3 separate regions of the Homo sapiens genome follow, and all the other regions are linked to region 3. Evidence: fine-mapped expression QTL. A gene starts in region 3. Each other region holds a variant in brackets. All regions are shown on one strand. Distances are between the middles of the regions.

Region 1 (2,758 bases), 880 kb before region 3:
GCTGGGCATGGTGGTGGGCGCTTGTAATCCCAGCAACTCGGGAGGCTGAGGCAGGAGAATCGCTGGAACCAGGGAGGTGGAGGTTGCAGTGGGCAGAGATCACGCCACTGCACTCCAGCCTGGCAACAGAGTGAGACTCCATCTCAAAACAAATAAACAAATAAATAAATAAATAAAAATAATAAAGTTGAAAAGAATAAACACACATTCAGAACACGTTATTCCCCTGAACCACTAGGCCTGGCCCACCCCGTTCTGAGCACCTCTCATACTGGGAAAGCTCACAACCAGGAATGCCCAGAAGATCAACAGTTTACACATTCAGTTCTGTACCCTCTGTTCCTCTGATGTTCTACCTTCAAGGGTTCACTGAACTGTGTAACTCCCAAGTTCTGGAATAGGGAGAGGAAATTTTGTGCTCAACCTCCACACCCTTCTCAGACCAGTGAACCTGTCTGATTATGGATATTCAGATTTTCCCCTAATCTGTGCTAAATCAAACAAATAAAATCAGAGACTGGCAATGAGAAGGGCAGTTCTAACATGCTTCCTGCCAAGATTATGCTCCAGAGTCATAGTCCTTTAGTCGGGGTAGATTAGAGTCAAGGTTTACACCTCTAGGCAAAGGTCACTGAGGTTTGAGGCAATGTTTAAGGCTTTGTGCAGTGGCTCATGCCTATAATCTCAGCACTTTGGGAGGCCAAGGCGGGTGGATCACCTGAGGTCATGAGTTCGAAACCAGCCTGGCCAACATGATGAAATCTCGTCTGTACTAAAAATACAAAAATTAGCCGGGTATGATGGCGGGTGCCTGTAATCCCAGCTACTTAGGAGGCTGAGGCAGGAGAATCACTTGAACCCGGGAGGTGGAGGTTGCGGTGAGCCAAGATTGTGCCATTGCACTCCGGCCTGGGGAACAAGAGTGAAACTCTGTCTCAAAAAAAAAAAAAAAAAAAAACTTGATAGCACCTAATAAAACTGAAAATTACACATGCTAAATTACCCAATAAACCTATAACATAGAGACACTCACATGTACACGTTAGGAAACATTCAAGAATGTTCATCAGAGCATTGTTCGTAATAGCAAAAAAATAGAAACAGTCTAAATGCTCATCAAGGGGGAGTAGATAAAATGCAGTATATTATTACAAAAGAATACTACAAGGTAGCTTAAAGGAAAGAACCTAACATATCAAACACATTGTTGAGTGAACCAGATAAACCACAGAATGACATATATGATATGGTACCATCTGCGCTAATTTAAACACACAAAACAACACTAAGAATGTGGGCAGGCGAGGGTGGGGGATGCGCGCGCATGTGTGTAAAATTGAGTCATAGTGGCAGTTGAAAATGAGTTTTATATAGTCTTACTTATAATGACACTCTGGGAAAAAAGTAAGGAACTTCTGAAACATTTTCCAGCAATAAAAAATAAATGAAAGCGGCCGGGCGTGGTGGCTCATGCTTGTAATCCCGGCACTTTGGGAGGCCAAGGCGGGCGGATCACGAGGTCAGGAGATCGAGACCATCCTGGCTAACACGGTGAAACCCCGTCTCTACTAAAAATACAAAAAATTAGTCGGCGTGGTGGCGGGCGCCTGTAATCCCAGCTACTC[G/A]GGAGGCTGGGGCAGGAGAATGGCGAGAACACGGGAGGCGGAGCTTGCAGTGAGCCGAGATCACGCCACTGCACTCCAGCCTGGGCGACAGAGCGAGACTCCGTCTCAAAATAAATAAATAAAAATAAATGAAATCTGCCAATTATAATGGAATTAAAGCAGGAAGTAGGCTTTCCTGGGGAAAGGGGAGGAAGGGAGTAACTTGGTCCCTGGAAAGGGAAATGGTGGGTTGAGAGAGGTTATAATACGATTTTAGATTTCAGCATTACTATAAAATTTTTTTTTGACAGATGAGTTCTCACTATGTTGCCCAAGCTGGAGAGCAGTGGCTATTCACAGGCAAGATCCTTATGCCACTACAAATGGCTTTGAGACTTTGAGAGAGACTCTGTTTGTTTGGAAGAAAATACAAGAAGAGAATAGGAATTTCTACCTGGTAATCCAGAGAATTATTTTGGCTCTTATTCAGGACCACCAAGGTGGTACTCTATGAGGCTGCAGGGACCACAGCATTACTGAGCTTGGGGTGCCGCCTAATGCAGAGACAGCTTAGATGACAACACCTAAGTCCCTTCAAATACCTGGAAAGCCTTCCCAAGAAGGACAGGTACGGCCGAGCGCGGTGGCTCACGCCTGTAATCCCAGCACTTTGGGAGGCTGAGGCGGACAGATCACGATGTCAGGAGTTCAAGACCACCCTGGCCAACATAGTGAAACCCCGTCTCTACTAAAAATAAAAAAATAAAAAAATTAGCCAGGCGTGGTGGCGGGCGCCTGTAGTCCCAGCTACTTGGGAGCCTGAGGCAGGAGAATCGTTTGAACCCAGAAGGTGGAGGTTGCAGTGAGCCGAGATTGCACCACTGCACTCCAGCCTGGGCTACCCAGCGAGACTTTGTCTCAAAAAATAAAATAAAATAAAATAATAATAATAATAATAATAATAATAATAATAATAATAAGGCTGGGCGTGGTGGCTCATGCCTGTAATTCCAGTATTTTGGTAGGCCGAGGTGGGCAGATCACCTGAGGTCAGGAGTTTGAGACCAGCCTGGCCAACATGGTGAAACTCCGTCTCTACTAAAAATACAAAAATTAGCCGGGCGTGGTGGCAGGTGCTTGTAATCCCAGCTACT
Region 2 (2,758 bases), 30 kb before region 3:
TTCTTTCTTTTCTTTCTCTCTCTCTCCCTCCCTCCACTTCCCTCCCTTCCTTCTTTCCTTCCTCTCTTTCTTTTCTTTTCTTTCTCTCTCTCTCTTTCTTCTTTCCTTCTTTCTTGATGGAGCCTTGCTCTGTCGCCCAGGCTGGAGTGCAGTGGTGCAGTCTCAGCTCACTGCAACCTCCACCTCCCAGGTTCAAGCCATTCTCCTGCCTCGTAGTAGCTGGGATTACAGGAGCCTGCCACCACATCCAGCTAATTTTTGTAGTTTTAGTAGAGACGGGGTTTCACCATTTTGGTCAGGCTAGTCTTGAACTCCTGACCTCAAGTGATCCACCCACCTCAGCCTCCCAAAGTGTTGGGATTACAGGCATGAGCCATCATGCCTGGCCCTTTCTTTCTTTCTTCTTTCTCATTTTTTTTTTTTTTTTTGAGACAGGATCTCACTCTGTTGCCCAGGCTGGAGTGCAGTGGTGTGATCATAGCTCACTGCAGCCTCAAACTCTGGGGCTCATGCAATCCTTCTGCCTCAGCTTTCTGAGTAGCTGGGACTATAAGGTGTGCACAACCACGTCCGGCTAATTAAAAAAAATTTTTGTAGAGACGGAGTCTTACTATGTTGTGCAGGCTGGTCTTGAACTGGGCTCAAATGATCCTCTCACCTTGGCCTCCCAAAGTGTTGGGATTACAGGCATGAGCCATGCACCCAACCAGAACCTGTCCTCTTTACTGCGAATTCTGGTGGCAGATATGCCAGTAGAACTGAGTTCTGTGATGACTTCCCAGCTTGGCAGGCTCCTTGTGCTTGGGGGTTCTGGACAGAATGTGAGGTGGTTGTGAGGGCAAATGATCTGGGAAGAGGGGTGAGACCACAGAGGAAGGATAGGCGCTGCCTAGTGGTTGGGGGGCCAGGCCTGAGGACTCAAGGCATTTTGAGAAAACAGAGCATCCTATTGTTTTGTTCTGGAGTCTGGAATCACACTACTGTCCTGACCCCATGGCACTGCACCCAATTCCCAGGACAATTGTAGATGCTGAATTAAGAGCAAGAAATAGTACATTTTGTCTCAAATAAGGAAGGTGAGAGAAACCCAGTTTCCTTCCCCAAAGAGGCTCCTCCGAGAACATAAACATCCAACCATGATGGCCCCAAATTGCAATCTGTCGCCCCAGTCCAAAAGTAAATGAAGAATTTTTTTCCAGCAGAGCAGAGCCTTACAGAGAGGTGAGCTCTGGGGGTGAGAAGGGCCCTAGTCATACTTTGAGGAGGGCCTGTCTCTCTCTGTCAAGAGCAGGGCACAGGGTTGGAGGTGGGGCGGGCGGGTGCAAGACCCTGAGCGAGCTGTTTCCCTCCAGACAGGGCCTCCCCCTCCAGGGTGCTATCCCGGCCTGGGTCGGGTCAAGGATCCAACCCCAGGACTGCCTTGAGGAAGGGGCCATGAGCATTTTCCCCAAAGGAATCTTGTTCTTGTGCCTAGAAGTTTTCCTTGAATTTCCAGAGAAAGCCAATTTGGTATCAAATTAATCTTGACACATTGGGCTGAAGGCCTGAGAAAGGCAGACATAAAAGGGTAGGAACAAGGGACAAAACTGTAACTGCAGCCAGGGAGGCAGGCAGGGCGGCCAGAGGAGAGGCAGGAATTTCATAC[G/A]TACCAAGGACTTGAAGTCAGAGGCAGGAGAGCCCGGGCCTGCTGGGAAGGAAATGCAAGTTGAGGCAGGAGGTGCTCACCCCTCCCACCACAGGCCCAGCTCATCTCAGTGGACAAAGGGTGGACGGGAAGGTGTGTATCTGCTTTTTGTTTTGTTTTTTTTTTTTTGAGATGGAGTCTCGCTCTGTTGCCCAGGCTGGAGTGTGGTGGCATGATCTCAGCTCACTGCAACCTCCGCCTCCTGGGTTCAAGTGATTTTCCTGCCTCAGAAAGGCCTCCCGTCCCTGCTCACAGCGCCCCCTGTCCCGTCAGCTTCAGGATCTGGCCCTGGCCCCTTGCTCAGCCGCAAAGCCTGTGCCCTCCGGCCTCCACTGCCTCTCCAGCTTCAGCCCCTCTGCCCAGGGCCACCCTCCCTCCCCTGCCCTCTGTGGAGAGACAGCTCAGTCTCACTCTGAGGAGCCTGTTGCCTCTTGGGAGGGCCCCTGCCCCACCGCTCTCCCAGCCCAAACCCTCTGGGCAGCTCTATCCTCCCCAAAGAGTCTCTCACTTTAGTGTGCCTAACAATTGCCTGGGAGGTTATGAAAATAAAGGTGCCTGGTCCCCTCCTCTGGGTGGTCCTGTTCATGAGCTCCACAGGGGTTCTTCTTTATTTTTTGGGACAGGGTGTCTGTCACCCAGGCTGGAGTGCGGTGGCATGACCTCAGCTCACTGCAGCCTGGATCTCCTGGGCTCAAGCGATCCTCCCGCCTTGGCCTCCCAAAGTGCTGGGATTACAGTTGTGAGTCACTGTGCCCAGCCTCCACAGGGGCTCTTATACACACCCAGTATGAGATCTGCCCCGTTTGTTGGAAAGTTTGCCTGTGAACCAGGTATGAGCTAATTGGGGCCCTCAAACAGAAGTATGCAGGGACCATATGTTAATTGATTTCTCAATAACAGCCTGTTTCTGTTTCCAGTGCCCATTTCCCTGGGGTAAAGGAACTTAATTGTGAATTTAGGGGATCCCCACCTTCACCTGCAGGCTCTCCAGTGCTATCGTGGCAAGATGGTGTTGGTGATGATGGTGCTTCCTCATTGGGGAAAAGCTGGGGCAAGGGCCACTGCCTCTCATTG
Region 3 (2,729 bases):
CTAGAAGCAAGAGGGGAGACATCAGAGCCCACAGTGCCTCCTGGAGTCCCAATCCCATGCTGCTCCCCCAAACTCTTACCTTCTTGAAAGTGCTCTGGCCTCAGCTGCCTCTGTCCTGTAGCCGTGAAGCCTGGAGGGAAGAAGGGCAAGTCAGGGGCCACTGGGAGGGCCTTCCCTGGACTTCAGCAAGGGATGGGGAGGCTGTGGAGATCAAGAGTGTAGGACAGACAAGCAAGACACGAGATGCCCCTCTGTATTCACCTGCCCCGTGTCCCCTAATCCTCTCCCAGCCCCAACACACCTAGACATGACCAGCTGGGTTCTGAGAAAGCCTGTGGCGGTCTGATAGCTCCACCTCTACTGGCTCAGAGGTTGGGCCTAAAGGGAGTATGGCATACGGGATTGGGGAGGGAGGCCCTCATTTCCTCTGCCAGTCTTTCCCTCAGGGCTGTGGGTTGTCCTCCCCAGTCTCTGCTGGGATGCGTCTCTAGCTTTCAGAGGAAAAAGTCTGGACCTTGAGCTGGTTGGAGCCTACCCAATCCACCTCCTCCACCCACCCTCCTACTCCAGGCCCTTGAAACATCTTTAGGCCTTTGGTTAAGGAGGCTTCCTGAAGGTTGAGTGCTTCCCCTTCAGCCAGTCTCAGCTCCGCCTTAGTTTAGGTCTCAATTTAGGGCCTGGGGGACTGGGACAGGCACAGGGAAGGGTCACTTGTAGGTGATCTGCAGACACAAAAGACCAGGAGCTGGGAAGAATGATGGCATGGGGCTTCACAGAGAAGTGGACAGATTTGCTGACATCCTCAGCAGCTTCCTGCAGGAGTGCCCTGGGTGGTTTTTTTCCTTTTCTTTTCCTTTTTTTCTTAGTTTCCACCCATAGCATTGAGGGGTTCCTGTTTTGTTCAGGCATCAAAGCAGATAAAGAATGTGTTTGTGCTGGATGGAGGGTGGGTCTGTGGATGGACACCCCTCAACTCCTCTAATCAGACAGGGAGTCAGTCGAGGCTTGCTGGGCCAGCAATCCGGTTTTGAGCAGCCTGGGGGCCCCTTTTCCCTCCCTTGCCTCTCCCACCAGCCACCTCCCTACATCCTCATCAGCAGGAGACCCTCACTCTGTGAACCCACCCCCCACTCAGTTGTCTATTTGACTGGGATTCTGTGTTTCTTGGCAGCAGTTTCTAGGAACCCCTCTCCTTCTGTGCCCCTGCTCTCTGCCTCCTTGGTTAAAGGCTCCACTGGCCTAGGCCCACTTTGGGCCTGCTCAGAAAAGGAAAGCCAAACGGAGAATCACTCTGCTAGTGATGAGCCGTCTGGGATGCCTGGACCCAGACCCCTGCCATGCAAGCCCAGACCCCCTCCTAAGTGCTGATCCCCCAACTCACCTCCCTCAGAGGCAGCAGAAGCAACAGCCAAATAGGTCAAGACCAAGGCTGCTCTGGCTGTGGTCCCCATCCTGGGGCAACTGACCACTGGACACTCAGAGGTGGGTCCTCTCAGGCAAGTCTGGATGTGAAGGGCCGGCCACTGAAGCTTGTCTGGTGGCTGTTACGGTTGTGAGCTTCAGGACCAGCTCTTCTTTTATAATTGTCTGGTGTGATCTCCCGCCCTCCTCAGCTTCCTGCCATGACTCAGTCCCAGCTGCTCCTCCTCTGGAAGCCACTCCTCCCAAAGTCACCCTGAAGCCTCCTCAGAGGATTGAGAAGAATGGGACTGATTAGAGGAGAACATTCTTATGACCTTCAAGAGAAACTGATTCAGAGAATCCAGGAGCAAGAGGTGTTTGAGCCCCTAGTTTGTGCCTCAGTTTCTCCATCTACAGGCTGCCTTCTGTGGAGAGGGGATCTGCCAACTCATGAACTGGGGTTGGGGAAACAGGGCACAAAGGAGTTTACAGCGGGGAGCAGGAAACCTATCCAAGGGATCTCCCCTACCAGTGTGAGGTCTGGACTGTCCCTTTTCAATTTCCCTAACTCTCTGGGACAAAAAAGAGGGAGACAAAGTGGAACATCCTTTTATCCCACCTCTCCAGAGTCAGAGATGAAGACATATGACCAGCAGCTTCCAGTTTGTATTTATTTATTTATTTATTTATTTAGAGACAGAGTCTCGCTCTGTCGCCTAGGGGGGTGCAGTGGCGCAATCTCAGCTCACTGCAACCTCTACCTCCCGGGTTCAAGCGATTCTCCTGCCTCAGCCTCCTGAGTAGCTGGGATTACAGGCGTGTGCCACCATGCCCGGCTAATTTTTTGTATTTTTAGTAGAGACAGGGTTTCACCGTGTTAGCCAGGGTGGTCTTGATCTCCTGACCTCATGATCCGTCCGCCTCAGCCTCCCAGAGTGCTGGGATTACAGGCATGAGCCACTGCGCCTGGCCCAATTTATTTTTTTTTGTAGTTTCATTCTCCTCACATCCAAACAGCTACAGCTTCCCTCCTTTTGTGGGGTCCCCAAACCAAGTCTCTTTTCAGGAGAGCAGACATGTGCCTCCACACAGTTCTGAAGTTCTGGGGGCTCCACATTGTCAGCTGGGTTGGGGTCTCCCATGTGAGGGAGGCTGATGGCACTCGCAGGTTTTTGCCTCATCTATGTACAAAGGCTCAGAAAATTTCTTCGGCATTTGGGACCCTCGTGTTCTGTAGCTCCACCAGTCGCTGCACAGCCTCAGGCAAGTCCCACTCCCCAAGGCGACGATTATCTCGAGTCCGAATGTTCACTGTTCTCTTACTTTGC

The links.
Region 1: its variant is fine-mapped to the expression of ECM1 in atrial appendage (GTEx, PIP 0.95).
Region 2: its variant is fine-mapped to the expression of ECM1 in fibroblasts (GTEx, PIP above 0.99).

What each region holds. Positions count from the first base shown.
Region 1 is chr1:151,388,984-151,391,741 of GRCh38, reverse strand. No RefSeq gene overlaps it. Among named protein-coding and RNA genes, the nearest start is that of PSMB4, 9.2 kb to the left of the region's middle. The variant G/A (reference allele first, on the strand shown) is at 1,626.
Region 2 is chr1:150,537,072-150,539,829 of GRCh38, reverse strand. No RefSeq gene overlaps it. Among named protein-coding and RNA genes, the nearest start is that of ADAMTSL4, 11 kb to the left of the region's middle. The variant G/A (reference allele first, on the strand shown) is at 1,646.
Region 3 is chr1:150,506,932-150,509,660 of GRCh38, reverse strand. ECM1 (extracellular matrix protein 1) reads right to left here and starts at 1,552. Exons shown (of 10, transcript NM_004425.4): 1 at 1,382-1,552; 2 at 80-130. The coding sequence starts at 1,451. It overlaps TARS2 (threonyl-tRNA synthetase 2, mitochondrial), which reads right to left. Exons shown (of 18, transcript NM_025150.5): 18 at 2,059-2,729. The coding sequence ends at 2,597.